Linked DNA regions of Homo sapiens. The protein of the gene in region 2 interacts with the protein of the main gene of each other region in a pairwise test. Each region holds a gene or a part of one and is shown on either strand. Other genes may lie near its edges. The genes, in order: SPACA1, NSG1, BTN2A1 and FNDC9.

Evidence for each region.
Region 1: the proteins of NSG1 (region 2) and SPACA1 interact in binary tests that used the Homo sapiens proteins (3 or more experiments, as listed by UniProt).
Region 3: the proteins of NSG1 (region 2) and BTN2A1 interact in binary tests that used the Homo sapiens proteins (3 or more experiments, as listed by UniProt).
Region 4: the proteins of NSG1 (region 2) and FNDC9 interact in binary tests that used the Homo sapiens proteins (3 or more experiments, as listed by UniProt).

What each region holds. Positions count from the first base shown.
Region 1 is NC_000006.12:88,050,834-88,057,854, reverse strand, and holds part of SPACA1 (sperm acrosome membrane-associated protein 1 precursor), read right to left. Parts: intron 3,910-7,021; coding exon 3,853-3,909; intron 244-3,852; coding exon 142-243; intron 1-141. UniProt on the Homo sapiens protein: Plays a role in acrosome formation and establishment of normal sperm morphology during spermatogenesis. Important for male fertility.
Region 2 is NC_000004.12:4,382,111-4,390,120, reverse strand, and holds the start of NSG1 (neuronal vesicle trafficking-associated protein 1), read right to left. Parts: upstream 3,020-8,010; 5' UTR 2,948-3,019; intron 2,518-2,947; 5' UTR 2,492-2,517; coding exon 2,363-2,491; intron 2,136-2,362; coding exon of another isoform or gene 2,015-2,135; intron 1-2,014.
Region 3 is NC_000006.12:26,453,761-26,460,975, forward strand, and holds the start of BTN2A1 (butyrophilin subfamily 2 member A1 isoform 1 precursor), read left to right. Parts: upstream 1-4,194; 5' UTR 4,195-4,382; intron 4,383-4,846; 5' UTR 4,847-4,876; coding exon 4,877-4,958; intron 4,959-5,720; coding exon 5,721-6,068; intron 6,069-7,215.
Region 4 is NC_000005.10:157,342,674-157,350,422, reverse strand, and holds the start of FNDC9 (fibronectin type III domain-containing protein 9), read left to right. Parts: upstream 1-4,745; 5' UTR 4,746-4,882; intron 4,883-6,879; 5' UTR 6,880-6,886; coding exon 6,887-7,561; 3' UTR 7,562-7,749.

The DNA.
Region 1 (7,021 bases), on a different chromosome or scaffold from region 2:
AGTGGAATTTAAAATTTTATGATTTCCTTTGAGTATGTCAACTGGTTGCCTCCTTCTACTCAGTGGCAACCTGAGGTGAAAAATATTTCCCCAGAGTAAACTCTTGCCCACAGTCTCCCTCCAATACATAATTCAACTCACAGCCACAATCTGTTGGTCCACGGCATTCTTCTACCCGTACAACACACTTGGATTCACCACCAGGGCATCCATTTGTTAATATAACTTCTCTAACACCAATACCTTTGGTTTAAAATTTAAAAAGGCAAATGTTAAGAAAAAAACTGATTCCAGAGTGTCTTCACTTTCCCACCTAGGTCTTTTCTTAAGACTTTTCTTCTAATTTCAGAAATTAAGTTTCTAAATTCAGAACGATAACACTTAAAATTTTTTTGGCTCTTCATTTTGAATTATTTCCTAAAACAGCATTTTCTGGAGTGAGTTACGTGAAACACTAGTTCCTCTGGTTACCATAAGAAAAAGGATTCCATGATCATACACATTTGAAAATGTTACATCAAATGAAATTAAAGGGACCGCTTTACTACGGAATTTTGAGGGAACTTTTAATACACTAGTAAAATAACATGCTATTGTGTACATTCGCATTGATCTAAGATGTAAAAACATTTTAACATCTTTAAAATCAGAATACATTTACAATTGATAACATGTCATAAATTAATTGGCAGTATTTTTCCTTTTTAGAGTACATAAAATGTACTTCTTACAGTCCATAAATTCGTGGATTTGATGGAATATAGTGGTATACAATATTTCCCAAACTTATTTGACCATGGAACTTTTTGGGGAAGCATGGGGAAAGTTTCTGGAGGAAAATAAAAAATCACATTTTAGCATAAATGATGCCTTTAAATATTTAGATTCATAAAATGTCTGTATTAAATATAGAGAGGAGAACCTATTACTGACCAAATCTCCATTTCCAACAAGATGCTCTCTTTAGATTGTCACACTTTTTGTAACAAGAACTTAACTCTCCTAACTGATCTCAGAATTCCAGAGTTGGCCTCACATCACCACAATTGAGAGAAATAACAAAACATGGGATTAGCTACATGTTGAACCGTGTCCCATGTTAAGACAGGCTAAGAAAGAGTCCATTTTTATTTCCTTAATTACCAGATTTCCTCTTCCAGCCCCTCTACGATGTTATCTTAGAGGGCAAAGGGAAGTTGATGACTAGAGGTGTCTTATAACTGCTTCTCCAACTTGACAGTGCATGCAAGTCACCTGGAGATTTACTAAAATGCAAATTTTGATTCAGCTGTTCTTGAATGGGTTTGAGATTCTGCATTTCTAACAAGCTCCCAGGTGATACTGATGCAGTCTGTGGACCGCACGTTGAATAGTAAGGGAGAAGGCTACATACGAAACAAGAAAATGGAAGGATGGAAGGAAGAAGGTCTTTGGTTAAGAGAGATGATGGCTGAGAATGGCTGAAGTACGGCTCCACTTGAGTTTATCAAAGTTTTTTTTTGAGACGGAGTCTTGCTCTGTTGCAGAGGCTAGAGTGCAGTGGCGCGATCTCAGCTCACTGCAACCTCCGCCTCCCGGGTTCAAGCAATTCTCCTGCCTCAGCCTCCTGAATAGCTGGGATTACAGGCGCGTGCCACTACGCCCAGCTAATTTTTGTATTTTTGGTAGAGACAGGGTTTCACCATGGTGGTCAGGCTGGTCTCGAACTCCTGACCTGGTGATCCGCCAGCCTCAGCCTCCCAAAGTGCTGGGATTACAGGCATGAGCCACCACGGCCAACCTGAAAGCGTCTTTAGAAGCACAGCCTTAATTCCGAAGTAATTAACATGCTATTGTTAATATTTTTAAAACAGGTTTTTTGTTGTTGTTTGTTTTGTTTTGTTTTTGAGATGGAGTCTCGCTTTGTCGCCAGGCTGGAGTGCAGTGGTGCCATCTCAGTTCACGCAACCTCCACCTCCCGGCTTCAAGCAATTCTCCTGCCTTAGCCTCCCAAGTAGCTGGGACTACAGGTATGTGCCACCGCACCCAGCTAATTTTTCTGTATTTTTAGTAGAGATGGGGTTTCACCATGTTGGCCAGGATGGCCTCGATATCTGGACCTCGTGATCCACCCGCCTCGGCCTCCCAAAGTGCTGGGATTACAGGCGTGAGCCACCGCGCCCGGCTTAAAGCAGTTATTTTATGTATTTATTTATTTAGCTAAATACAGTTCACTGAGATGCATGTAGGTGTGGGATTTTCTGTAATACCAAGTAACATCTAAAAATCTGCCTGGATATAAAAGAAAACTTTTTGACTGCTAAAATATTGTTTCAGGAGTTTAACAGAATTTTCATCAAGGCATTTTTCTCTTCTAGTTCTAAATTGGAAGGTTTTTAACATTTTCGGCATGAAATATTGCTTTTCCTAGTTTATTTTTTTCCTTATAACTTATTACCATCTGATACATTACATGTTTTACATATTATGTGTCTGCTCTTACTAAACTATACATTGCTTGGGGGCAGAGAGTTTTGTCTGCTTTGTCTGCTCATATCCCTAGCATCTATAACGATGCCTGGCACATAGTAGGCAAATAATTTTAAAAAAATAATCATTTGAGTGAGTACAATTTCTAAACTTGTCTTTAAATAATAGAAAACAATGGCAATTACTCGAACTGTCATAAAAATAATTCTCTACCTGTGAAAATTTCCGAAGTTAGTAGCTAAACAAAGATGTAAACCACAAATAAGTAATTGCAGGCTTACTACATGGATTTCTCTCATTTTATGACTCTTGACTTACTAAGAAATTAAGGTTAAAAAAAAAAACAGGTTAAAACAATTTTAAGAGATAGAAAGAAGAGTGGTTGCCAGGAGCTGGGAGGAGGGGGGAACAGGAAGTTAGTGTTTAATGGGCATTTTAGTTTGACATAATAAAAAAGTTCTCGAGATGGGCGGTTGTGATGGTTGCACAAGAATGTGAATATGCTTAAGTCAACGGACTTGTATGTTTAAAAACGGCTAAAATGGTAAGTTTTATGTTGGGTATACTGTACCACAATTTTAAAAAGCTTCTCCAAATAAAAACAATTCAGGTGTAATTTTTGACACCGCCACCCCTGCAAAATTCATTCTGATCTAGATCTGAATGGATTTTGTCTTCTTATCCTCTGATAATTGTCCCGTTTTCCCTCTCATCACTATTTTCTTTCCAAGGCAGATTCTATTTAGAAGAAATTTAATTTGATTGTGAATTATCTATGGTCTTCTCAGTACCCTGGTCTACAGCATTGTTTCTCAAAGGATAGTCCTCTAACTAGCAGCATCAACTTCATTGTAAACTTGTTAGAGAAATTTTATGTCCAATTTCTACCCATGGAATGATCAGACTAAGTCATATTCTTTGAATATTATCCTCCCCACAAAGCCAATACATCTTTTCTCCAAAACATGACACGCAAATTGGAGAAATGTAGAATTTAGAATGGACTATTACAAATAAGCAAATTCTTGATAAATTTGCCAACACAATATGTGGGAAGACATCTGTGAGATGCATTGGAAAATCTTTCGTCTTCTGAACATCTGTGAGATAGAGAAAATTTTACTTTGGTGAAGGCAGTTTATGTGCAAAAAAAAAAAAAATAGGGAGCTGGCTTAAAATAAGATTTAGAGATTATAAACTGAAAATATCTTACAGTTTAAAGCAATCACCCTGAGTTTTGTGTATACATTATAGTTATTAGAAATAAAAATCCATGAGAGATGCATGAAAGTACACAAGTTACAAAGTTGCACACTATCTGCTTTTACCTTTCCTCCCCCGCAAATTACAACATGGTTTATTCATCTGCTCCAAGCTACTTACCACATGTAACGGTGCACATTCCGAATTCTACTTCTTTGACGACATTCCTATTTGAAACTAAACATAAAGGGTAAAGATACATTATTTAATTATATGAAAACTTTTCTAAGTGAAACACCTCTTACTTGGAGATGAAAGACATGTGTATGATATGGGCAGCAGACATTTTTTAAGTTTTCCATTTAAATCAGAAAACAATGCCATTCTGAGTACTGTTATTGTCTAACTCAAAAGAGTCTCAAACCTCTAAAGAAGTCCATTAAATTAGGAAATAACCTAATAGGAAGGTTTATATTTAAACTTTGTATATACCTTAAAAATGTTTTTCATCAGTTGATATATAGTGAGTCAAAACTTGATAGAGGGTCTCAGAAAAACACACAAAGCCCTATCTGTTGTAAAAACCAATGTTTTCTATTCTCTATTTTCCAAAATTGAGTGTATAATTTCCATTCAAAAAGAAGCCCTTAACCAGTGTTCATTAAAATGATAAAAGTTATAGATTAGTTCTACTCATTTCCCAGGTTAAGATGGTAAATTTAAATATTTCTAAGAATTTATTTCAACACTTTACAAGGTTAGTATAGGAATATATCACTATTTAAGAAATTAAGTGTTGTTGGTTCTAAATCATATGTTTCTCTTTTTCTAATCATTTGAAGTTTGGCATAGAATTCCACTAGCTATAGTATATAAGCAATTCTTCAGCTCAAATTAGGACGAAAGTCTCAATAGAAAAAATATAAAGTGAGTTGTTAGAAGATGACTTTCAAAAGGCATTGTACCCTAGGACAACAAATCGCATGGAAAACACATCGAACTGGAGTCCAAAGAGCTGCTTCTATCACTAATTAGCTGTTTGCATTTAAGCAAATTTAATTAAATGCTGTCAGGCTTAGTTAACCCTTCTGCAAAATTTGGAAAGGAAAATCCTCATTTGATTGCTGTAAGAATTAAATAAGGATAATGTGTGTGAAAGCATTCTATAAATTGTTTAGTACTACAAACATACTTAAGATATAATTACCCAATTTAAACTCATTTTGTACTTATTAATTTAATGTTTTTTTCCCCTATTTTGATAACTGTAAAATCTCAAAATAGCTTCATAAACACTACTATTCTGTACTTAAGAGCACCAAATATAGTTTTTTGTTTTTGTTTTTCCGAGAGAGTCTTGCTCTGTTGCCCAGGCTGGAGTGTAGTGGCATGATCCCGGCTCACTGCAACCTCCGCCTCCCAGGCACAAGTGATTCTTCTGCTTCAGCCTCCTGAGTAGCTGGGACTACAGGCAGACGCCACCATGCCCACCTAATTTTTGTATTTTCAGTAGAGACGGGGTTTCACCATGTTGGCCAGGCTGGTCTCAAACTCCTGACCTCAAGTGATCCACCAGCCTCAGTCTCCCAAAGTGCTGGGATTACAGGAATAAGCCACCGTGCCCAGCCCCAGTATAGTATCTTGCATACTCAGTAAGCACCCAATGCACATAAGTAAATCAATATTGACTTTAAGTCATTTCTTTAACGAAAATAAATGATTTAGACTATCATGATGATCCATTTTGAATTGTGGAATGCTTAGATACCTTCTACAGACACATTATGAGACACAAATTAAAAGCCAAATCCTGAACATAGAAAACACGGCTAAGAGAATGAGTGCTGCACTACTTTTAAATATAAGCCTTTTTCAAAAACCATTAGTCAATCACTAGGCATTCTACTTTGGGAGAGTTGTTCAATTTCTTCCAACTTGTTTCCTTAAAGAAAAAAAAAATGAGACTAAATAAGAAAGTTTCTAAAGTCCCTTTCAGCTTTAATATTCTATGATGTATTGAGTGTCCATTAGTTTACTCAGTAACTTTTTTTAAAAATGGGAATCCTACAATGGTGGGTCAGTGGAATTGTATGTAACTGGACTTCAGTTTGGCATTTGTCAAAATTTCTTGTTATAAACCTATGAGTGGTAAAAAAAATATATGGTCTGAATGTCAGTAGTTTTATGTGAAACTGTTTAAACTCTAAGACCACAGTTGTTAATTAACCAGTTGGTGTCAACATGGTAGGAGTGATGTGTCACAGGGCTCTGTCCTGTTCAACATTTTTATTAATGACCTGGAAAAAGATGCTGTTATCATGCTGACTGAATCCAGAATTCTGCAAAGCTAGAAAGGATAGCAAATATATTTGATGATACATCTGGATCTAAAAGATGACAGGGTGAAATAATGGGCAAATCTAACAAAATGAAACCTTGTAGGAATAAAAAGTCCTTCACATACAGCTAAAAAGCCAACTGTCCAAAACTATTTTATGGGTGGTCTTAATTTGATAGGACAGTTAAAAACGAATGGAGAGTTCAATAGTGAATTCAATAGGAATCAAAGATGTGCAGAGGCTTCCCTAAAAATCTACTGGGTCTTAGACTACACTAACAAAAGCCTGGCATCCACAGTGATAAGGAAAATGATCTTGCTCTTTTAGTTGTGGCCAGATCCTGAAATGTTCTCTTCAGTTCAGGACAGCACATGGTAACTTTTGGTATATATCATCAGAGTGCAATTTGAGTTTTTCAGTTTCTGACAGTTGATTTGAAAGGCTGATATTTTATGACTTCTGTTCTTCCTTAGAAGTATTCCAAGACAAAAATAACATATAGTTATATTTGTATAGGATAAAACCCATTGTATAGACTACAACTTTCTATTTTGCAATTACTATGTAGGTCTATTGGCCCCTTTTTATAAATCTAAGGGTATACTTGTATAAAAGATATATTTAAAAGGTATATTACATGGTATACAAGGTATAACAAAAGTATAAGGATATAAATCTATTATCTTTTTTTTTTTTTAAGACAGAGTCTCGCTCTGTTGCCCAGGCTGGAGTGCAGTGGCGTAATCTCGGCTCACTGCAAGCTCCACCTCCTGGGTTCACGCCATTCTCCTGCCTCAGCCTCCTGAGTAGCTGGAACTACAGGCACACGCAACCACGCCCGGCTAATTTTTTGTATTTTTAGTAGAGATGGGGTTTCACCGTGTTAGCCAGGATGCTCTCGATCTCCACCTTGTGATCTGCCCACCTCGGCCTTCCGAAGCACTGGGATTACAGGCGTGAGCCACCGCCCCTGGCCATAAATCTAATATCTTAATGATTTTTCTTTATCT
Region 2 (8,010 bases):
AATGAATGGGAAATAAGGCTACTGCTGAGGATGAGGAAACCCATGGAAACCTCTCCCGTATGTGGGGGCCCCATCAATATTCTGTCGACCTGGATTCTATCCCCACCTGCCACTAACAGGCTAGGTGACCTTGGGCAATTCTCAAACTCTCCGTGCCTGCATTTCCACATCTGCAAAATGGGGGTAACATGGTAGTGACCTCATGGCATTATCAACACATTAAAAGAATTTAAACCTGTAAAACTGGCAGAATAGTTCCTGGTGCAGAATAAGTGTCTGGCAAATGTCAGGGGAGACCAGCCCTGACTCTGCTGCCAGCACTGTGACTGCTGTCACCGCTGCACCCCAGCACCTCAGCACTCCATACACGTTCTCAGAACAGATTCTCATTTATAACCCAACTGTGTCACCACCCCTCAGAAGCCATGTCACCTGAAACAGGTGACATCGCCTCCCTGAACTCTGACCGTTAGCAACACGTTGCTGTTGTTCAGGTTAAGAGAGGTCTTACGTGAGAGACATCTGGCTCCAAGCACAGTGGAGTAAGAGGCACTGCCAGAAACTTCTGCATCCTGGAGGACTGTAACCTTCAGCCCAGTGACCTTGGGTATGTCCCATAAATGCTCTGAGGCTCAGTTCCCTCATTGTGACCTTAGAAGCCTTCTGGAAAATGATCCCAAGAGCCATAACCCTTGTACCCACACTCAGTCCCGGCGGGAAGTCCGGGATGGAAGGTCTGGCTGGACCCGAGAAGAGCATCCCTGCTGGCTGCCCCGCTTCGGACGCTTGCAGAGAGAGCAGACTCATCACCTTTCCGAGCTGCCTAGGCTACTCCTGGTCGACCTAATTAGTTGGTGAGGATTTCATACCTGCCTGAAACCCTCCTCCCTGTATAAACCAACTGTGCCAAATGGTTCTGGAATGGAACAGACTGAGGACAAGAGAGGAGGCTCAGGCCAAGTGAGGGGAATCACCTGATAGAGGTGCTGCCTCAGGACACGGAGTTCCTGGCACAGGCGCCACTGCTCCTCAGCCGAGCAGCTGGGGGCCCAGGCAGGAGGGGGTGTGGGGGCCTCGGGGCCAGGCCCCGCTAACTGGACGAGTCTGATGCCTAGACAGGGAGGGGTGGAGTGGAAGCTGAGGCCTCAGGCAGCCCTGCCCCTCCTGCAAAGCCTAGCCTGGACCATCAGTGGCCCAGAGTGGCACCACCGTGGCCTGGGGGGCACAGGTGTGGCCGGCTGATCCCCCTTTCTTGAACTGAAACCCCCGCTGCCAGCCTCTTCCCGGCTCCTGCCTCCCTCCCCAGACGACACACACAATAAAGCTGGGAGGACACCTTCACAGGGGTCAGGGCCCCCACCAGGACACCCCCACCCCACAACACCCACCCCGTCAGCAATCACCAACTTGCTGGAACGAAGACAGAGCCCTGGCTCAGAGCCCCTTCACCAGGGACTAAATGAGAAAATAAATAGAAAAGCACTTCCGGGAATTATTCGTGGCTGTGGTGGTTCGTAAGCGGCAGCAAGATGCTGAGAGTAGATGCTGTGTCTATGGTCTTAGATGTGAATTTTACAGTACAATTGCCTAGACATGCAAAGATCTATTTACATTTTTAAGTGTTAACTCTTGGAAATATTATTCTTAGCAAACAGAAACTACTTAATTGGATGCTACATTCAAAAAGAGGAGATTCTTTAAATTCAGCAGAAAACACTTTGGGGAAAGGTTGATGAATGGTTTTTCCCAGTGACACCAATACTGAGCGAGCCCGGGCACTTATTTGGAGATTTCACAAAAGGAACAAAGAGGAAGGAGACCCTGTGTGAGCGCGCACACCCTCCTGCACCTAGCGCCAGCCTGGCAGGGGCAGGCAGAAAGGGCGAGAACAATTCAGCCCTGGGGAGGGGCCATCTGACCAAGGAGAACGCTCCCCCGCCTCGGTGGGGCAAGTCGGGCTGAACTGCCACACCCGGGAAGGTACAGGGGCAGCCTCGCCCGCCCCTAGGCTCACCCCCGATCCAGAGCCCCTGGGGCCACGGGGCAAGGGAGGAGCAGGGCAGCTGCGGGGCCAGGGCCCTCTCGGATGAGGCTCCCAGGAAAAACGCGAAGGAATCTTGCCCCACCGCGTTCCACTGTCAGGACGAGAATATCATCTAAGGCAGGGCTCCCCTCCCCCGCCCAGCATCCCGCGATCCAGAATCCCGCGCGGGTACACTGTCCTCGCCGCGCTCCCTCCGGCCTCCCGAGCCCGCCCCCACTTCGCGTACCCAGCGCACGCGGCGCGTTTCTTTTGTTGCGCCCGCCGTGCGAGATTTGGGGGTGCACACCCGGCAACGTGGAGGGGCGTGGGGGGGCTTACCTTATCCGGGGGCGGGAACTGCAGCTGATTGACATCGAGGGGCGTCATCAGGGGAATGGTGTCGAAGCCATCCTCCAGCAGCGGCTGCTTGGTGCCCTTCTCTGCGAAATTGTTCCCCAACTTCACCATCGTTCCGGGAGCTCCGAGGCTGCAGCCTGCGGCGGGAGGGCCGGGGGGAGTCACCACAAGCAAGACCCGGGGCGGGGCGGGGGGGAAGTGGGCACCCACACCCACCGGCGTCCCGGCGTCCGCGAGCTCCCCGGCCCCGCTTCGTCTCGGGGAGGGCTCGTGGGGACGCGGTGGTCACGGCCCGATGCGGGGGTCGGGTGGTGCTGTGTATTTCTAGACCCTCATCTCGCAGGACCCAAGCGCCGGGCGCAAGGGCGCACCGCGGCCAGGGAAGGGGGCGCCGCCCCTGCCCAGCACCTCCAGACCCGGTCCCCGGTCCTGGGGCCGCCGCACCCGGGCGACCCGCTGTTCACAGCCCCGTCCCGCGTACTCCGGGAGATGGGCATCCCCCGGGCACTGCTCCTGGGCGGGCAAGGTCTGGCCTCGGCAAGCCCAGGCGCGGCCGGCCGCACTCACCCACGCCCGGCTCCGGCAGGTCAGCTGAGCGCTCCGAGCTCCGCGTCTCCTGCTCCTGCTCGCAGCAATGGCGGAGGCGGCGCCGCGCGCGGACCCGGGAAGGGGAGCGAACGATTGGGCTCCACGGCCGCTCCCTCCTCCTCGCGCCGCCGCCTCCCTTCCTGCCTCTCCCGGGGGCTGGGTGCGCGCGGGTGGGTGCGCGCGTGTGGCCGCGCCTCCACCTTGACGCAGCGCCCGCCCGGCCGCACAAAGGAGTGCGGGGCTGGGCGGGAGCCTCCCCTGGGACCACGCGCCCGCCCTGAGCCGGGGGAGGGAACAGGGGAGCGGGAGAGGACGCGCCCCCAGGGGGTCTCGGAGCGGCGGAGGGCGCCCGGAGCGGGAGGGCTGCGGGCTGCGCCACCCCGGGCGGCGGCCTGGGCGCGAGGCGCTTAGAAAGGAGAAAGGGGAGGCGGGGACCGTAGGGACAGAGCGACCCCCAGGGGTGCGGGGAGGTGCAGAGAGGGTCCCCGCCCGCAGCGCGCCGCGCTCACCTGGGGGTCCTGAGGACGTTCAAGGGTTTGGGGGGATGGGTCCAGGAGGCGCTGGGTGGTGGCGGAGACCAGAGCAGGGTGCTCCTTAGTGCTGGGTTGGGGAGGGGGCGACCAAAAGAGGGCGCGTCCGCGTATAAAGGGGGCGCGGCCCGTAAAGGAGGCGCGGCCCGTAAAGGAGGAGGAGGTTTTCGGTGGTGCGGGAGGCGGAGTAGCGCTCTCCCAGGGCTGGGGTGTGGGCGCCCAGGGTGAGGCTGCCCCAGGCAGCGGGAGGGAAGTCGTTCTAGGCAAAGAGCGCTCAGTGCGCCGCTTGGAGGGAGGCGGAAAGGTTCCTCCGCTCTGGTTGGCAGAGAAGGTGGAGGTCCCACTGCAGCCGCCGCCCGAGCATCCTGGGCACAGAGGAGGGGCCGCTGGGACGATGCCCGGACGCGGAGAGAAGGGGGGTGGTTCTAGCCCGACCTGCGCCCCCAAACCCCGAGCTCAGCCGCTGTCGCGGCTTCCCAGAGAGGGTCCTGTTTGCAGACCTCCAACCCGTCCTGCCTGCAGGACTCACGGATGAAAGACTATGGGGTGTGGGGGCGAGGCCGAAATGGGAGTGGAGCCCGCGCGGGAGGAGGCCGGCTGCGGGGATCGGTGCCTCCTGGGCACCTGGGCCAGGAGCTGGGCCCTGTCAGGCGCTGGACGAGGAGGAGGCATCACCCAAATTCGATACTTTTTCACACCCTTTCCGGGGACTTCCCCGCGGCACTACGGAGGGTCCGGGGCGTTTTCCATCAGCCGTCTGAGAATCCTGGGAATAAGCCCAGAGCACAGGAGCAGCCACCGCCTTGAGCCCCAGGCACAGCCTGGGAACTTGCCGCGGGTGCCCTGATTTCAAAATCCCCAGGAGGGCTAGCCGTCTTTGACAGGTGACCTAGTGGGTATCTCGTAACTCGCCCCAACTCTCCAGCCAGGGTCTAAGTGTGCCTTTGACCACAGGCCAGCCTGGTCTGAACCCAGGCTCCTGGCAGAGGCACCCCGCCCCCAACCCAGGGAAAGCGGGTGTCAGACTCTGGCCCCTGCCACGGGCCTCGGGGACCCACAGAACCCACCTTTTTGGCACTTTGATGCCTCCCTGAAGCAGGTGAAGAAGAGAAGATTTCTCTTGCTCCACTTCAGAAATCTGCCCAGGCATCTGCCATGAGAGTGACCCACTGGTCAGGAGAAACCCTTTGGGCTTAAGCAAGGAAATGGCTTTCCCGCACCCCCCCCCGCCCCGCCCCCCGTCTCAGGCTCAAGCATTTAACAGAACCCAACACACACGCGCGCGCGCAAACACACACACACACACACACACACACACACACACACTTGGTCAGAATTCCACACCAGGAGGAACAAAGTGGAGGCCCTGCCCCTCCCTTAGAGACTCTGTCAACTGAGGAGGACAGAAAGGCAAGAAGGACCTAGGTTGTCCCAGAGATGGACGGTGAACAATCATGTTTCTCTGCTAGCTGGCCTTTTGTGCTGTCTTGGGTCTTCACTGGTGCTGGTCATTGGGACTGTTTCATCCTGTGGTTTTCTTCCTCTGCTGATTGTATCTGGGCCCTGTGAAGGGCATGGACAATGCAAAATGCATGAGACACAGCGCCACCCGCAGGGAGCTACGGACAAGGGCAAGTCTTTGCTGGGAGCAGTGGCCCTGTGGGAGAGTGGCCTCTGCCTCTTGCCAGGAGGGAGGACATCCAGAGACTGTGGGTAAAGACTGTGGATAAAGCTTCCTACAGGTGGGCCTGAGAGAGGTGCGTGCAGAGGGGAAGGCATTCCAGGTAGGAGAACAGAATGTGTTAAGACAGTATATGAGCTTCCTGCCACTGTTGGAACAAATTTGGCTTAAAACAATAGAAACATGTTCTCTCCTGGCTTTGGAGGCCAGAAGTCTAAAGTCTAGGTCCCAGCAGGGCCTCACTCCCTCTACAAGCCACAGAGAAGAACCTGTTCTTTCCCCCTCCAGCTTCCAGTGGCTCCAGACATTCTTTGACTGTGGCTGCATCACTCCAATCTCTGCCTTCATGTCACTCCAGTCATATTGCCTCCTCCTCTTCTCTGTGTCTCTTATAAGGACACTCATCATAGGATTTAGGGCCTGCTGGGATAATCCAGGATAAGGTCTCCCTCTCAAAATCCTTAACTTAATCCTATCTTTGCCATATAAGATAATGTTCACTCTTTTACTATGTAAGGTAAATCAGGTTCCCGGGGTTAGCATGTGGACATATCTTTTAAGGGTCGCCATTCAGCTCACTACAGGCATTAAGCTTGCAAGGGTGTGGTGATTTGGAGAACCCAAGTCATTCACAGAGGGTGGCAGAAATTAGGTTGAAGAAGCCACAGCCACCAAAATGGGGATGGCTGAGGCTGCAATGGTGGTTGCAGGTCAAACAGATGTCAGGTATTTTCACAACATACAAAAAGGGAAAATCAATGGGATGCGATCTCCCCCTGGACCAGTTTCATCCCAGCACCAACAATTTAAAATCCAAGTGCCACAGAAGATTGTTGACACATACTCAGTTTTTCTAAATGACTCTTTTTTTTTTTTTTTTTTTGGGACGGAGTCTTGCTCCGTCGCCAGGCTGGAGTGCAGTGCCGTGATCTCAGCTTACTGCAACCTCCGCCTCCCTGGTGCAAGTGATTCTCCTGCCTCAGCTTCCTGAGTAGCTGGGATTACAGGCACGTGCCACCACTCCCAGCTAATTTTTGTATTTTTAGTAGAGACGGAGTTTCACCATATTGGTAAGGATGGTCCTGATCTCCTGACCTCGTGATCCACCTGCTTCAGCCTCCCAAAGTGTTGGAATTACAGGAGTGAGCCACTGCACCTGGCCCTAAATGACTCTTTTAGGAATACTTCCAGGGTTGCTGATCTCAGGCACAGACCCATCACTGCCTGTACGATTGTAACTCCTACCCTGCTCCCTCTCCTCAGGGCAGCCAGGCGCTGCTCTCTAATGACCCTGGTACTTCCAGGTCCAAGCGTTTTAGCAACTTCCCTTGTCCCACTGGTTGAAGTCCAGACTGTCACAGCAAGAGACAATGTGACACAGTGGCTAAGCCGTGGCCCGATTTTGAATCCTGTCCCTCTCTTCCTAGCAGTGTGACTTCAGGCAAGCTGCTTAACCTTTCTATGCTTCAGTTTCCCCATCTATAAATGGAGATAATGAAACCTCCATCAGAGCAGTGTTGTGAGAATCAAATGAGCTATTCTTATTTTTTTAAGTGCCTGTTTTAGGTATTACTATTGCTTTGACCTCTAATTCTGTACTCCTGTGGTCTCTATTCTTAGCAGCCGGTGCTGGAGCCAGGGCGAGGTGATAGACACTTTTCCTGGTTATGTGACAAGTGTTCAGAGTGACTAAGGTGACTCTTCCCCTAGAGGCCTCATGAGCCTCTTTGCAGGTCACAGAAGTCAAATGATGAGTCCCCGGCCACAGGCTTCCCTGCAGAGCTGGGATGGGTTGCAGGATCTAGTCAGGCCTCCCACAGCCAGCCAGATCTCCAGGATGGATGAGGTCCTGCTGGGAGGGTGGCCACCCAGTGCTGTCAGCCTATGGAGGTTCAGTGGCAGGTGATCAGCAGAGGTTCTGCTCTGTTTTTCTGCAGCCTGGCCACGTCGATCCAGCGATGCTTCATCCAAATGTCTTGTTTTTAGATTGAGATGTAATTCACATGCCACAGATATCACCAGTTTAAAGTATACGCTTAACTGGTTTTAGTATATTTACAAGGTTGTACAATCATCACCACTAATTTCAGAACATTTTCATCACCCCGTAAAGAAACCTGCATCCCACAACAGTCACTCCCTGCACACATCCTCATCTCTGATGGTTTTAAGTTTCTTGGGTCCACTTCTCAATCCACGGGACCAGCCGGCACGCTGGGACCAGCCGGCACACTGGGATCAGCCGGCACACTGACACAGAATCGGGAGAGACATTAGGCTCTGGATCTTTCTGCAAATGGGACAATCCATTTGCAATGTGAAGAATCAGCCCACCTGGGTGAAGTCATCCCTGTTTCTCCTTAAACCCTGTCCTGTAGCCAAATTCTCCATTCCCCCAAGTGCCTGCCTCCAGGCCTTTGCAAATGCTGCTTCTCTTGCCTAGATTGCCTTCCCCACTCCTCATCGATTTTGCAAACTGCTCCTCATCCTCCAAAGCCCAGATCCAATGTTGCCTCCTCTTTGAAGCTTGGCCTTTCTTTATGCTCCTCTATCCCGGAGTCTGGGTATTTACATTTCTATATAGATCATGAGCAAATCAGGCAGAACCACTTAATCTTTCATTTCCATATCCCCCCTGTCTAGAGCATGGCCTGGTAATCAGGAAATGTTTGCTTAATTGAATAGGCATCCACTTAGCTTACATTCACAGTAAAGTAAGACATGAACATCAGAGGTGTAAATTCGAATTCAAGTGCATAGTAAGAAAGTCAGGTCAGGCCTGGTGGCTCATCCCTTTAATCACAGCACTTTGGGAGGCTGAAGTGGAAAGA
Region 3 (7,215 bases), on a different chromosome or scaffold from region 2:
AGTGCAGACGAGGTTTCACCATGTTGTCCAGGATGGTCTCGATCTACTGACCTTGTGATCCACCCACCTCGGCCTCCCAAAGTGCTGGGATTACAGGTATGAGCCACCGCGCCTGGCTTCAGAAATTCATGAACTTAAAGCAACACAAATTTATTATCTCACTGTTCTGTAGGTGAGAAGTCAGAAGTCCCACAGGGATCTCACCAGGCTAGAATCAAGGTGTCTGCAGGCTGGATTCCTTTCTGGAGTCTCTAAGGAAGAATCTGTTTCCTTGCTTATTCAGACTATTGGCAGAATCAGTTCCTTTCATTTATAGGACTGACGTCCCAGTTGTTCCCTGGTTTTTAGCTAAGGGCTGTACCCACTTCTAGAGGCTGCCACACTCTGGCTCCTAGCTCCCTTCCTGTATCTTCAAAGCAGCAACAGCGCATTGAGGCTCATCTCCTAGGTCTTTTTCTCCATTGTGTCTCTCTGATTCTTTTACCTTCTCCTTTTTTTCCTTCCTTTCTTTTTTTTTTTTTTTTCTTCTTTGACAAGGACTCGCTCTGTCACCCAGGCTGAAGTGCAGTGGCGTGATCTCAGCTCACCACATTGTCCCCTGGGCTCAAGCAATCCACCCATCTTAGCTTCTCAAGCAGCTGGGAGCACAGAGCCACATCACCATGCCTGGGTATTTTCTTGTAGAGACAGGGTCTTGCCATGTTGCCCAGGCTGGTCTCAAACTCCTGAGCTCAAGCAATCTGCCCACCTTGGTCTCCCAAAGTGCTGGGATTATAGGCATGAGCCACCACGCTCAGTCTGCCTTTTACTTTTAAAGACTCCTATGATTAAACTGAGATCACCCAGACAATTTAGAATAATCTCTCTATTTTAAGGTCCATAACCTTAATTCTGTGTAAAATTCATTTTACTGTGTTATACATTCTTTTCATAACTTTCATAGTGAATATAGCTCAAAGGGTGGGTGCGGGGAGCACTATTCAGCTCACCACACTGATTTGGGAAGTGATTCCAGGAAACACAAGTGCAGAAACAAATTGAGAAATGAAAAAAAGCCAATTACATGACAAATGGGATAAAGGGTTCACTCATGAGTCAGTTACCATGTGGATAACTTGGCTGAATCCCTTTTAGGACTCTCTAAGAAACCATATGAAATGTGTGATATAGCTCAGAATCTTCCTAAGGACTACAGGGCCTGGGACTTTATCTCCACTTCCCATCCTCCTTTGCTTGAATTGGTTGAAGGTTGGCCTGGGAGTGTTAATTCTAATGCACTTTAAGATTGGGCTATGTAACTGCAGAAAAGCAACTATCACGGGTGTGATAAAGCTCACAGGCAAAGGAGAAGGGAGATACTCACTGGAGGTGGAAAGGTTGTCATCCTTGCAGAAAACTGTGCCTCAGCTATTGGCAAACTGTGATAGGCCAAGAGAATATGGGATGGGGCATCAACAGCGTCTGTTATAAGGGCTCTGCCTCTGAGAATATAGTGAATGCCTTTCAAGGTCTCTCTGCCCTCGCTGTACCACATTTAGCATTAGTGACCTCTTCTCTTCCAATACATGCCCACATCACATGGCCCTGCAGCCTCACCACATGGACTGGGTCTGGGATGGACACCTGACCCAGGCTAGGCCAGAGGACCAAGTGACATGTGGCTAGTTACTCCTGTAGCAGATGTGCATGGGAGCTGTGGGAAGAAATGCTCCATTCATGGTGTGGACTAAACAATGGTGGATTGCAGAGAAGACCAAAGCAGATGAGCAGAGAGAAGGCTACAAGATGGAAAGAGTTTAGGCAAATTTCTCACGTTTGGTTCTTTTAGAAGCCCAGTATCATTTCTTCTTTTTGAAAAAATGTGTTCTTTTGAGGCAAGATAAATGTACTCGTTAATATTGCTTGTAGTCCTAATATTCAGAAGCTTATGCAACTATTATAATATGTTCAGTGATTCTGTGAGTCAGGAATCTAGAATTTGAACAGGGCAGAGTAGGAATGGATTTTCTGTATGTCAACATGTCTAGGCCTCCCCTGGGAGTACTCCATAGCTGGAGATGACACAGCTATATTACCTTCACAGACTGTAGTTTATTGTAAAGCAAAAGGAAATCAATGCTTACCCTGTATCCTGGTTCTTCCAGGGTTGGCAGGTCCATAAAGAACCTTGCCAACGTGACCCTTCCTGTCTCTATCCCTCCCACTACAGAGCATGATTGGGTTAGGTTGTTACTATCTAACCGGGCACACCCCAGTAGAGCCTGATTTCTTTCTAAGCTACCCCATCGTCAACTGATCCTCTTCCTTCTCAGAACACACACGTTTCCCTCTAGCTCAGATCAACTTTGGCAGAGGCTGAAGCCTGGCTTAGCTGGATGCTTCTGGCAAAAGGGCTACTTCAAAGCCCTGGGCCTTATTTCTTCAGGTAAAAAAATATAAAGTCAGATCTCATCCTGGCTGGCCATGCTGTTAGACCCTTTCATCCTTCTCTTCTGCCTCTTCTCAACAGCTGCCCAGTCCTGTTTGGAATTCATATACATACAGTTCTAATACTGATGTATTTACCCTCATAAGCCACTCAACCCAGAATCTTATTTGAATTATAATCCAGAAACATCAGGTGACGTGTGAGACTACTGTATGAGAAAGAGACAGTTTAAGGGTCAGTCCAATGGAAAAAAGAGTTCTCAGAGCTTTCTTTAGCTTATTCTCATCAAAGAGCTTTCTCTGCAGAAGGAACCTACTGGTTCCTCCTTTCCAGTCCTAGAAATCCTGACCTAGAGTGGCTTAATCCTGCTAGCACCTCTCTCTCGCACTCTGGTGCCAAATGACTCCAGGAACTGGGCCATGATGTGGTGGGAATGACCTTACCCTGAGCATGTCACTCATGCATTGAACAACAGCTAAGAGCAGAGCTTAGAGCTTAGAGCTGGGCCCTGTAAGGTGAGAGGAATCACATCCTGCAGAAGTCTGTCCTGAGAAGCAGGTACTCCTGTCACAGCAGAGACACAGTGGATACCTGAGTAACAATAATACAAGACAGGACGTGGGAACAGCAAAAGATTTGGGTGTCAGAAGAGGCCGAGAACACTTCAGGCAGGAACATTCAGAGTTGTTCTTGGAGGAAGTAGGCACGAAGGCTGGGCAGGATTTCACGGGGCAGAGATGGAGCAAGCAATTGAAATGAAAGCCATGGCATGGGAAAAGGAGCACTGGCCACAGGGAGTGCAACGTTGTGATGCAAGGCCACTGTGGAGCCATTGCTAGCGTATTAACTGCAAAGTTTTGAATTGAATCAGAAGGGAATTGGAGGCCTCCAGACTAAGCATTTAGACACTTGAGGGGAATATTGACAACTGGGCCTCGGGAAGATTATTCTGGAAGATATCTTTACAATTACAAGATTGGAGCCTTTGGGAGAGGGATGATGTTTACGGGAGGATGGTATGTGTGCTAGTGTGTGTGTCTGTGTGTGGCTCTTGGACCCAACCTGACCACCTACTATCTAGAAGGTGAAGGACAACTAGAAAGTTTTGCTCAATTCCATCTTCTGCCACCACCAGAATGCCACCTCCCTGAGGGAAAAGGTTTTTGATCCTCAGTCAGGATTCTCAGCACCTCTTATCCGATAGCTTTGGAATGAATGGCAAGGCCTTCATAACAGCCACTGCAACTGCTGTCTCCTTTCCTTTGCTACCCCTCCCGCTCCAGCCATGCCAGCTTCCCCCAAGCCCTCCTGCGCTCCAGGCCCAACCTCCAAAGCCAGCAACTTGAACAGGAGTCCTCTGGCTTTGGAAAGGGGGCGGCTTACGTTTTCCTGCTCATGTTTCCTCCCCAGCAAAATTGCCCTCTACATAGAGAGGCCTCTCCTTGTGGACACCAGCAAAGCCACCGACCTCAGTGACAAACCCCAGGGAATCTCCCCAAGGAATCTCAAAGCGAGAGAGAGAGAGAGAGTCTTGAGAGAGAAAGAGAGAGAGAGAGAGTCTTGCTTTCGAACAAAGAAAAAGGAAATAAAAAGACCCGATAATCTCAAAAGGTTATTTGCTGCTTGAAATTTGTGATTCGGTGTATTCTACCCAGCAACTGCTGAGAAATAAGGTTCGACACCATTGGCTGGTTCACTCACACCCGGCCAATCCTGGGCTCTAAAATACTTAGGGAACTCTTGGGACTGTGGAAGCCCAGGAGACCAGATTTCGTTTCCTGCATCTCCAAACATGGCGACCTAGGAGAAGGGGAAGAACAATTTTTTCTCCTCTTTTGGGAAGGTTTGTGTCTAGTAGTGCCTGTGCCCCTGGGCAGATTGGAGAGAAGAGGGACGACTGGAGAATCGTCGAGAACCAGCGGAGAAAAGAAAAAGCAACGTTTAATTCTAGAAGGTAGGAAACGGAGGGGAGGCGCTACAGCTCCGGGGTGGGCACAGTAGGTGGGGGAAGCGGGGTCTGCTGTGGACACGAGACGGGGTCCTGGGACAGGGAAAGCCCACCGGTGGGGAGGCGCGGCCTCGCCTGTCTTTGCCTCAGGCTGCCCGGCCTGGGTCGCGGGGAGGAGGAAGTGAAGGGAGGAGGGTGTGGTAGAATCCAGCGACAACTGAAGAAACTGCATTCTGGCCAGAGAAGTGAGCCGAGGAGGGCGGAAAAAGGCCCCCTTGATCTTGGCATTGATGGCTTACTTCATGGAATGTTTAAGGAATCCCTCTCTCGGGACATACCTGAGCCTTCGGATGCAGGGGACTCCCTGAAGTTGGGGCACTGATGAGACCTACTTGAGTGACGGGAGAGGTTGGGCCCGACCAGCACTGAGGTGCCAAGACTCCTAGGCTGATTCTCCTCTGTAACCCTAGGCCTCCTGTCCCTGCCTGCTCTGGGTGCTCATGGAATCAGCTGCTGCCCTGCACTTCTCCCGGCCAGCCTCCCTCCTCCTCCTCCTCCTCAGCCTGTGTGCACTGGTCTCAGGTAGGGATGTGTGCCACTTGCTGCTGTCACCTATCAGAAAGGAACATCAACCCTGTAGTCTGCAAAGGGAAAGAAAGAAGGACTGTGGAGTTGTTGACTTACCCTTTCATTCTGAACATGTTCATTGAATTTATACCAGCACTGTCCAAAAGGAATACAGTGAGGCACAAAGGCCGAGTGCATGTACAATTGCAAATTTTCAAAAAAAATTAAATTTTACTTTTTATTTTAAAAAGTAAAAAGAAACATGAAATAAATTTGTATACTATATTTTGTTTCGCCCCAAATAATCAAATACGAATATTTAAATACTTAGTTAATATACCATATTACCAATGAGATAGTCAACATTTTGAAATTTTAAATCTTCATAATCCTGTGTGTATTTTACACTTACAGCTCATTTCAGTTGGAACTAGCTAGTGGATATGTGTCCTATTGCACGGCTCAAGTTTACAGTACACTCAGGCACAGCACTAGATTGGGAAATCGAGGAAAATCCCCTCAAGGGCACAGGGTGGACAGAGGGTGCTCAGGGCAGGTTCCTCAGGGTTTCCTTCATGAAGCAGAAGCACACTTTATAGTTACTGCTCCCAGGGGTGCTGTCGACTAGCCACAGCTACTGGTCCCCAGATTTCTCAGCCCAAAGAGACCCTATGGCCATGGAAAAAATAAGTTTGTCCCTAGAATATCTGCTTCCTTTCTTGCCTTAGAGATGTGATGGCTGGTGTCTTTGTCTGACTCTACCCCTTTGTTGAACAGCCCAGTTTATTGTCGTGGGGCCCACTGATCCCATCTTGGCCACGGTTGGAGAAAACACTACGTTACGCTGCCATCTGTCACCCGAGAAAAATGCTGAGGACATGGAGGTGCGGTGGTTCCGGTCTCAGTTCTCCCCCGCAGTGTTTGTGTATAAAGGTGGCAGAGAGAGAACAGAGGAGCAGATGGAGGAGTACCGAGGAAGAACCACCTTTGTGAGCAAAGACATCAGCAGGGGCAGCGTGGCCCTGGTCATACACAACATCACAGCCCAGGAAAACGGCACCTACCGCTGTTACTTCCAAGAAGGCAGGTCCTACGATGAGGCCATCCTGCACCTCGTAGTGGCAGGTGCGTCGCTTCATTTTGCTTTGTTACTTTGGCACAGTGTGACTTTGGGGAAAGTTTCTCTCCTAACCTCAGGCCCATTGCAGACCAGCAAATTTTTGTCTGGACTCCCTTTTCCACTCTCCCTGTGGAAACGGAATTCCAGGGAAAAATCCTTCCTCCTGCACAAGGGACACATGAGTGGGTTTGCCCTGCTAAGCTAAGGGCTTCACTTCTTGAGAAGCACATGCAGAATTCAGCTGAGGCCGTGAGCAGGGGAAAATGGTCAGTCTCGGAAGAGAAGTCTTATACCTGCCTTAGGATTGAACTGTGCACTTCTTTTGGGTTTTTTTTTTCTTTTTGAGACAGAGTCTTGCTCTGTTGTACCCTCGCTGGCACGATCTTGTCTCACTGCAACCTCTGCCTCCCAGGTTGCACTTCTGAGAGTGAGAGGAGACACTGTCAATAATTGTTCCAAGACAACTGGAATAAACTGATTACCCAGAGAACTACAACATATCAAATCTTATTTCTTGATAAATATTAATCTTTACTTCATCTTTCCCAAAATGCTGATTGCAGAGAGAGTGACTTATTGTAAATAGATGGTTTTATTAAACCAAGACGAAATACAGAAGCAAAATTATATATAGTTCCTGCTAACTCCATAGAGAAAGACTACGAATTTTGCTGGGAGGTAATAGGGAAGCCTTCCACATAAAAATGCATTTAAACTGGGATTTCTAGGAATTTGTTAAAATGACATTAAGTGATTACTTCAGTTTTGGGGTTAGTGTATTATGCTTTAAAAGATATATTTGGGCTGGGCGTGGTGGCTCATACCTGTAATACGAGCACTTTGGGAGGCAGAGGCAGGTGGATTACTTGAGGCCAGGAGTTCGAGACCAGCCTGGCCAGCATGGTGCAACCCCATCTCTACTAAAAATACAGAAACATTAGCCAGGCTTTGTGGAGTGTGCCTGTAATCTGAGCTTCTTGGGAGGCTGAGGCACAAGAATTGCTTGAACCCAGGAGGCAGAGGTTGCAGGGAGCCGAGATCTTACCACATCACTCCAGCCTGGGCGACAGAGCAAGACTCTGTATCAAAAATTAAACAACAACAAAAAAGATATATTTGAGGACTGAAAAAGCCTTTAAGGTGCAGGATAAT
Region 4 (7,749 bases), on a different chromosome or scaffold from region 2:
TTTGACAAAGCAAACAAAAATATAAAGCGGGGAAAGGACAGACACCCTTTTCAACAAATGGTGCTGGGATAATTGGCAAGCCACATGTAGAAGAATGAAACTGGATCCTCATCTCTCACCTTATACAAAATTCAACTCAAGATGGATCAAAGACTTAAATCTAAGACCTGAAACCATAAAAATTTTATAAGATAACATCTGAAAAACCCTTCTAGACATTGGCTTAGGCAAAGACTTCATGACCAAGAGCCCAAAAGCAAATGCAACAAAAACAAAGATAAATAAATGGGACTTAAACTAAAAAACTTCTGCATAGCAAAAGAAATAATCAGCAGAGTAAACAGACAACCCACAGAGTGGGAGAAAATCTTTGCAAACTATACATCTGACAAAGGACTAATACCCAAAATCTACAAGGAATTCAAACAAATCAGTAAGAAAAACAAACAAACAAACAAACAATCCCATCAAAAAGTGGGCTAAGGACATGAACAGACAATTCTCAAAAGAAGATATACAAATGGCCAACAAACATAAAAGAAAAAGCTCAGCATCGCTAATGATCAGGGAAATGCAAATCAAAACCACAATGTGATATCACCTTACTCCTGCAAGAATGACCATAATCGAAAATCAAAAAATAATAGATGTTGGCGTGGATGTGGTGAAAAGGGAACACTTTTACGCTGCTGGTGGGAATGTAAACCAGTACAAATATAATGGAAAAGAGTGTGGAAATTCCTTTAAGAACTAAAAGTGAGAACTACCATTTGATCCAGCAATCCCACTACTGGGTATCTACCCAGAGGAAAGGAAATCATTCGAAAAGGATATTGCACACGCATGTTTATAGCAGCACAATTCGCAATTGCAAAAATATGGAACCAGCCCAATGCCCACTAATCAATGAGTGGATAAAGAAAATGTGGCATGTATACATCATGGAATACTACTCAGCCATAAAAAGCAATGAAATAACGGCATTTGCAGCAACCTGGATGGAGTTGGAGACCATTATTCTAAGTCAAGTAACTCGGGAATGGAAAACCAAACATGATTATGTTCTCACTTGAGTGGGAGCTAAGCTATGAGGACAGAAAGGCATTAAGAATGATACAATGAATTTTGGAGACTCAGAAGGGTGGGAGGAGGGAGAGGGATAAAAGACTACACATTGGGCATAGCGTATACTGCTCGTATGATGGGTGCACCAAAATCTCAGAAATCACCACTAAAGAATTAATCTACGTAACCAAAAACCACCTGTTCCCCCAAAATTTATTGAAATAAAAAAAACTGAAATAAGTAAATAAATAAATAAATACATAAAGTGAGGGAATTTGGCCAGGTGCGGTGGCTAATGCCTGTAGTCCCAGTACTTTGGGAGGCCAAGGTGGGTGGATTGCTTGAGCCCAGGAGTTCGAGACCAGTCTGGGCAACACGGTGTGGGGAGGATGCTTTTTTTTTTTTTTTGAGATGAAGTCTTCCACTGTCGCCCAGGCTGGAGTGCAGTGGTGCGATCTTGGTTCACTGCAATGGCAGGGTGCTTTTATGCTCTGTGGGGACTCACCACTAGCTCTTGGGAAGAGGCATGCTGTATGCATTGCTGCAGATTTAAGACAGGCCCCTGGGAAGACTGAATGCCATGGGAAAGCCGCAGAGCAACTATCTGATCTCATATCTACTAAAAATACAAAAATTAGCCAGGTGAGGCGGGGGGCAGTGGCTCACGCCTGTAATCCCAGTACTTTGGGAGGCTGAGGTGGGTGGATCACCTGAGGTCAGAAGTTCAAGACCAGCCTGGCCAACATGGTGAAACTCCGTCTCTACTAAAAATACAAAAATTAGCTGGGCATGGTGGTGCACACCTGTAGTCCCAGGTACTCGGGAGGCTGAGGCAGGAGAATCACTGGAACCCGGGAGGCAGAGGTTGCAGTGAGCCGCAATTTTGCCACTGCATTCCAGCCTGGGCAACAGAGTGAGACTCCAGCTCAAAAATAATAATAATTAGCCAGGGGTGGTAGTGCACACCTGTAGTCCTAGCTACTTGAGGGGGCTGAGGCAGGAGGATCTCCTGAGCCTTGGGAGGTCAAGGCTGCAGTGAGCCATGACTGTGCCACTGCACTCCAGCCTGGGAATTCCAGGGCGTGCTCTGTGAGCCACTCACTTTCCCCATGTGCCAATCCAGCTTTGGGACTGGGGCTTGCCCCATATTATCCCTTCACTGCCACCTTCAGGAAGGGTGGAAGAACCTTGCTCCTAGCTGATTTCCTCTAGCAGTAATTTACTACTGATGTCAACTAGCTGGGGCTCACCTGGCCTGAGAGCGAAGAGGCTACAACTTGCACAGACTCTGGAGGAATTGTCCCTGATGATGGAGAAAGTGTGAGCCTGGCTGGGGTGTAATGTCCTGGGGCAGGTGTCCCAGATACTTTATCTCCTTCACAAACGGCTGCACTGGCTCCTCTGGGTGCTGCTGGTGAGCGGCGACAGCTCAGAGGAGCGGGATGAACCCTGGCCTCCGCCTCCGAGTCTGGGGCCCCACCCCATTTCACTGGCAGCTCTGCCACTCATCAGTCAAGCGGTCTGAGGAATGCCATGTCTTCTCCCAGGACTGTGAAACAAGAGGGCTTGGAGGCCTCACATTCTCTGAGTATCTTAATTCCACAGTGGAAAATTTCTCTTGGTTAAAAATGTCATCCAAGAATATTAAAAATAAATTCCAATTTTCTGTGGAAAAAGGCTTGAGTTCTACCTTGTTCCTCCTCAGACCCCTTAACTCTGGTATTTTTACTCCCCGCAAAATAACCTTTTCAAAGGGCATCTGCAAACAGCTGCGTGGCCTTTCTGTGGGGAGGATGCTTTTATGCTCCGTGGGGACTCACCATTAGCACTTGACCTGGCTGTGCTCGCATGGGAAGAGACATGCTGCATGCATTGCTGCAGATTTAAGACAGGCGCCTGGGAAGACTGAATGCCATGGGCAAGCTGCAGAGCAACTTTCTGATCAAGGAACACTGGCTTGTTCCCGAGTTCCCAAGACTCCAAGCCTCCCGGAGACCTTTGGCCAAGGGTAGGGTCACAACTCACCAAGGCGGCTCTTTTTTTTTTTTTTTTCCAAGGGAAAAAGTCTTTCTATAATACCCAGGCTGGTCTGGAACTCTTAAGCTCAAGTGATCCTCCCACCTCAGCCTCCCAAGTGGCTGGGACTACAGGTGCACACCACTGCAGCTGTGCCTGGCTTTCTTCCTAACCTTTTATCATTAATGTGAATCAGAAAGAGACCTTCATGGGTTAACTTGGATACTTTGGCCAAGAACCAAGAAGAGAAAAGCTGACTTTTAAAAACATATAATGTGTATAAATTTATTCAGGTCTACATCTATCTGAGCTACTTTCCACCCTCTATTCCAGACACACCCTGTGATCTCAATAGAATGGTGGCAATGGGTTCTTACAAGGTTGAAAGGAACAGGAAGGGATGGAACCTCAAAGCCAGACGGCCCTTTATGAGAAAAGGGGAGGCAAGCAGTCTGGATTCTTGAAAGGAAAGGAACGCTGGGGATGATTCAATCCAGGAGTAGCAAACAGTTTCCATTTCTGGCGTCAACTCCAACTGATTGATTGGGAAGCAGTTTCTTGGGACGCTTGTGTTCAGAGGAACTCTGGGGCTGTTTCTGCACCCAGCTGGAAGCAGTGCTGCATTAGATTCCTAGGGTTGCTATCACAAATTACCATAAATGTGGCAGCTTAACATGACAGAAATTTATTCTCTCACAGTTCTGGAGACCAGAAGCCTGAAATCAAGGCTCTCGCAGAACCATGCCCTCTCCAAGGCTCTAGGGGAGAATGTTTCCTTGCCTTCCCAGCTGCTGATGGCTCCCGGTGTTCCTTGGCTGATGGCAGCATCCTTCCACTCTCTGCCTCTGTTTTCCCTTGGCTTCTTCCCCTTGAGTCTCTCTGTCTTTTCTCTTACAAAGACATTAGTCATTGGATTTAGGGCTCACCCTTAAATCCAGGAAGATTTCATCTTGAGATCCTTAACTAGTTATATCTACGAAGGCTCTATTTCTAAATCAGGTCACATCCTAAGGTTCTGGATGGATATGTATTTTGGGGGGGCATTATTCAACCCAGTGAGAGTGCCATGATGGTTTAGCAAGCTTGACAGGGGTTCAGGGCTGTGCAGGGATAGGGCTCAGGTCTTCTGCCTTCTGATCTGCCATCCTGATGTAGCCCAAGCCCACAGCTTTACAGATGATGGTGGAACTGAGACTCAGACAATAAAAATAAAAGGGTCTTGACCAGTACCATATAACTATGTAATGGCACATGAGTCAAGAATAAAGAAAGATGAAGATAAAGAGGTGGGGTAGGCAGTTGGGATGGGGAAGTGTAGGGGTGGGAGGGGATGAAGATGAATATTACTGCTTTGGTTGTGGAATAACTGAGAAAAGCATCTTTGCATTTAAAACCATTGGCCAAAGAGGATCTAGATGGGACAAGAAAATAATAATCAGCCAACTGGGGAGAAAATGTAGGAGTGTTAGAAGAATTAGTACTGCACTGGGGACCAGTTTTCAGGGGATCATCTGCCCTTTTTCAGCCAAAGGAATGAGAGCTCCTCTCACTGGGCAAAAGCCTTTCCAGGCTGGTCCCTGAAAGCATCGTGCGTACAGATGCCTGCTGGTTGCCATGGTGAATGATGCTGATCTGAAGAAATGAATAATGTGAGCATTAGGGGCGGCAGTGGGATTACTCAGTGTTGAGAGAAACAACACGGAAAGCCCAGAGCAGAGGAGGGAGAAGGCCCCATTCTCTCAGCTTTAATCTACTGCACCTCGGAGGGCAGAGCTCTAACCAGACACGCTGCAAGCATCAGGTAAGACATATAGATGGCTCTTCTTGGAAATGGAAATGGCTTCTTTTCACACTCTGCTTGGAGAAGGGCCGGGCAAATGAATAGTTAAAAATAGGGGAGAATTTAGAAACGGAAACAGAGGAAGAAAAATCAATAAGGGAGACGGACCTGGTCCTAAAAGGTGAGGATGCTATTTGCGTCTTGACAGAAAGCTCTTAAAAATGTCTGCTGAGGTAATTCCATCTGTACAGACAGCTAGTGGCAGATAGGAAGCCAAGAGAACATTTGTGCGTGACAAGAAACAGGATTCCTGATTACTCCTGATGGAAAGGTTTTACACAGGTGGCTGCCTATAATGAATTAAGCTCTTTTCATCGTGGTCGAAAGTGTATTTATAGTGATGTGTGGTGTGGGGAGGATGAGTGTGTAGAGGACACCAAGCTAGGAAACATAAACATTCGGTCTCCTTCATGATGACCTTCCCTGGAAGGGTCTGAGCACATCCGTCTCATCCCTTTCGTTCCCTATTTACTGGGAAGAAATATTCAGCCACATAGAAAGACACTATTCACCTTCCTGAGTATCTTAGTTCACTGTTACCCTTACAGAAGAAAAACAAGGATTAAGAAACTACTCAATGCTGTGCACCTTTCTGCAGCTCCACTCCTGGAGGAAAATGGGCACAAACACAAGAGGATGGGGGAAAGCAGAGGTGAGAGAAAGGCAGGTCATAATAGCCATTGGTTTGGCTTAATATCCAATGCAGGCGAAAATCCAGTTGACAGCTGTTTACTATGTCACTGCAACCCAAAATGAAACCTACGGGGTTTCATGTGAGGGAGGAGAGGCGGAAGACAAAGCAGGGTGAGACTGTTATGTGAATATGCGTAGGCTGACTATGACTGTCTCTGTATTTCTGATCAGGGGCAATCAGTAGAGGGAACTGCATGAGAGAAACTAAAATACTTGAAGATGGCTCTCTCTTATCAAAGCGGGGCCTGGCAATCTAAAGAGGGCTCATTTGATTTGTCTGGAAAAACAGCAACTGGGTCTCAGTCCTGGCACCTCATTTTGCGATAACGTCTGTAACTAAACCCGGCAGCCTTGCATTAGGAAATGTAGTGGTTAGGCGGCACTAAGTCCTTTTTCTACGTATTAGCGGTGTGACATCAGGTTGCTCATCCGTAAAATGGGAATCTAGCTCAGAGGATGTGATGAAGAATAAAGGAAATTAATTACTGCCTGTGAATCATCTAGCATGACAAGTGACATAGCAACCACTTACTGTGAGTGGTTATTACCATGATTAACATTCATAATAACAGCAGAATTAAATAGTGGTAGTTATGCTGATATTAGGGGCTGATTATCTTCACCCATAAAATAAATTTCCTGGTACCGCTGGCTTTGAAAAAACAAACAAACAAAACAAGAGCAGAAGCTTTGGGGTGAGATCAGCTGCCAAAGAGTGACGAAGCGAATTTCCACTCACCATGGGCAACAGAACCAGGAGGCTAAAAAAAGCAGTGGGCAGAATGTTCTAGATCACTGAGCTCACAGTACTTGGAGCAGAAACAGGAGGTCAAGAAGGAAAATTGAGGTGAATCAATTGCCTGAGGGGAGGTCACAGACCTGAGAATAAAGGTGGAGCCTCTGAGGTTCTACTGATTTCTCCTTACCTTTTCTTCTTTTTTCTTAAGGGGATGAGAACAATCCCCTTAAGAAAATCCCCTTTGTTATCTGAAGGATCTCAGCTAGGGTGGGATGTGGCTGGGATTGCATGGGTGCATCTGTTCTTAGGCCTGAACTTTGGCATGGGACAGCCCCAGTTTTAACTTTTGTCCTGCCACTTTTTCGCTATGCCTAAATAACAGAACCTCTCGGCCTCCATTTCTTTGTCTGTAAGATGAGGGCAACATGAGTGCCCGTCTCAAATGTGCAATAAATGGTGGCTATGATTATGATAAATACATACTTAAATCAGGGGATGTCACTCTTCACTTTGATTCTGGTTCCAGAATCGGGATGAACATCGAGGTGGGGAACATTTCTTATACAGGAGCCATCATCTCCTGGTCGTCCTCGGAGCCCTGCCTGGAGGACTATTACCATATTATGTACAGGCCCAACTGGAACAGCATCTTCTCTGGCTATCTTCGCTACAGCTTCCACCACGAGGAGAAGGTGCCTCGAACGATCAGCTCCGTGGTGCTGGAACATCTTGCCCCTTCCACTCTCTACTTCCTGTGCATCAGCTGTAAGAAGGCTGCCTTCCCTTACAGGCACTACTGCACCATGTTCCACACCCTGGATAAGAGTCCGCTGGCTCCTGGAAGCTCCCTGGTAGACCCCCAGATCTCCCTTTGGGTGCTGATGGCCATTCTGCTGGCCTGCTTCACAGCCGTCTTGGCCTTCATCTGCCTCCAGTTCTGGTGTGTCCGTTGCCATGAGCCGCGATGGTCTTACAGGGCTGGCCACATGGAGGAGGCCAATGGGTTGGTGAGATGGCCAGAGGAGGCCCCGGATCTTGGTCAGAGGGAGGAAGACCTGCAGGGGCTCCCCCTGGTGGAAATGCCACGCAAGAACTCCAGAGATGGAGCTGAACTGGATCCCGAAGCCAACCAGGATGCCCCTGATGCGGGTGCCTTACAGAGGGGGGGTGGTGACCCACCCGCTATACTGCCTCATTGTGGGGAATGAGAGTGGGGAGGAGAGCGCCCGCATCATGTAGCCTAAAGCTTTCCACACAGTAGGTCGTTTGTACAAATGTGTCTATAGACTACCCATTTCTCTCCCATCAAACGTCACTGCTATTGTAGGTCACCTGGGTTGGATGAATGCCCCATGACAAAGCTTCTCAAGCTGGAAAATGTATCCCCCAGGGTATG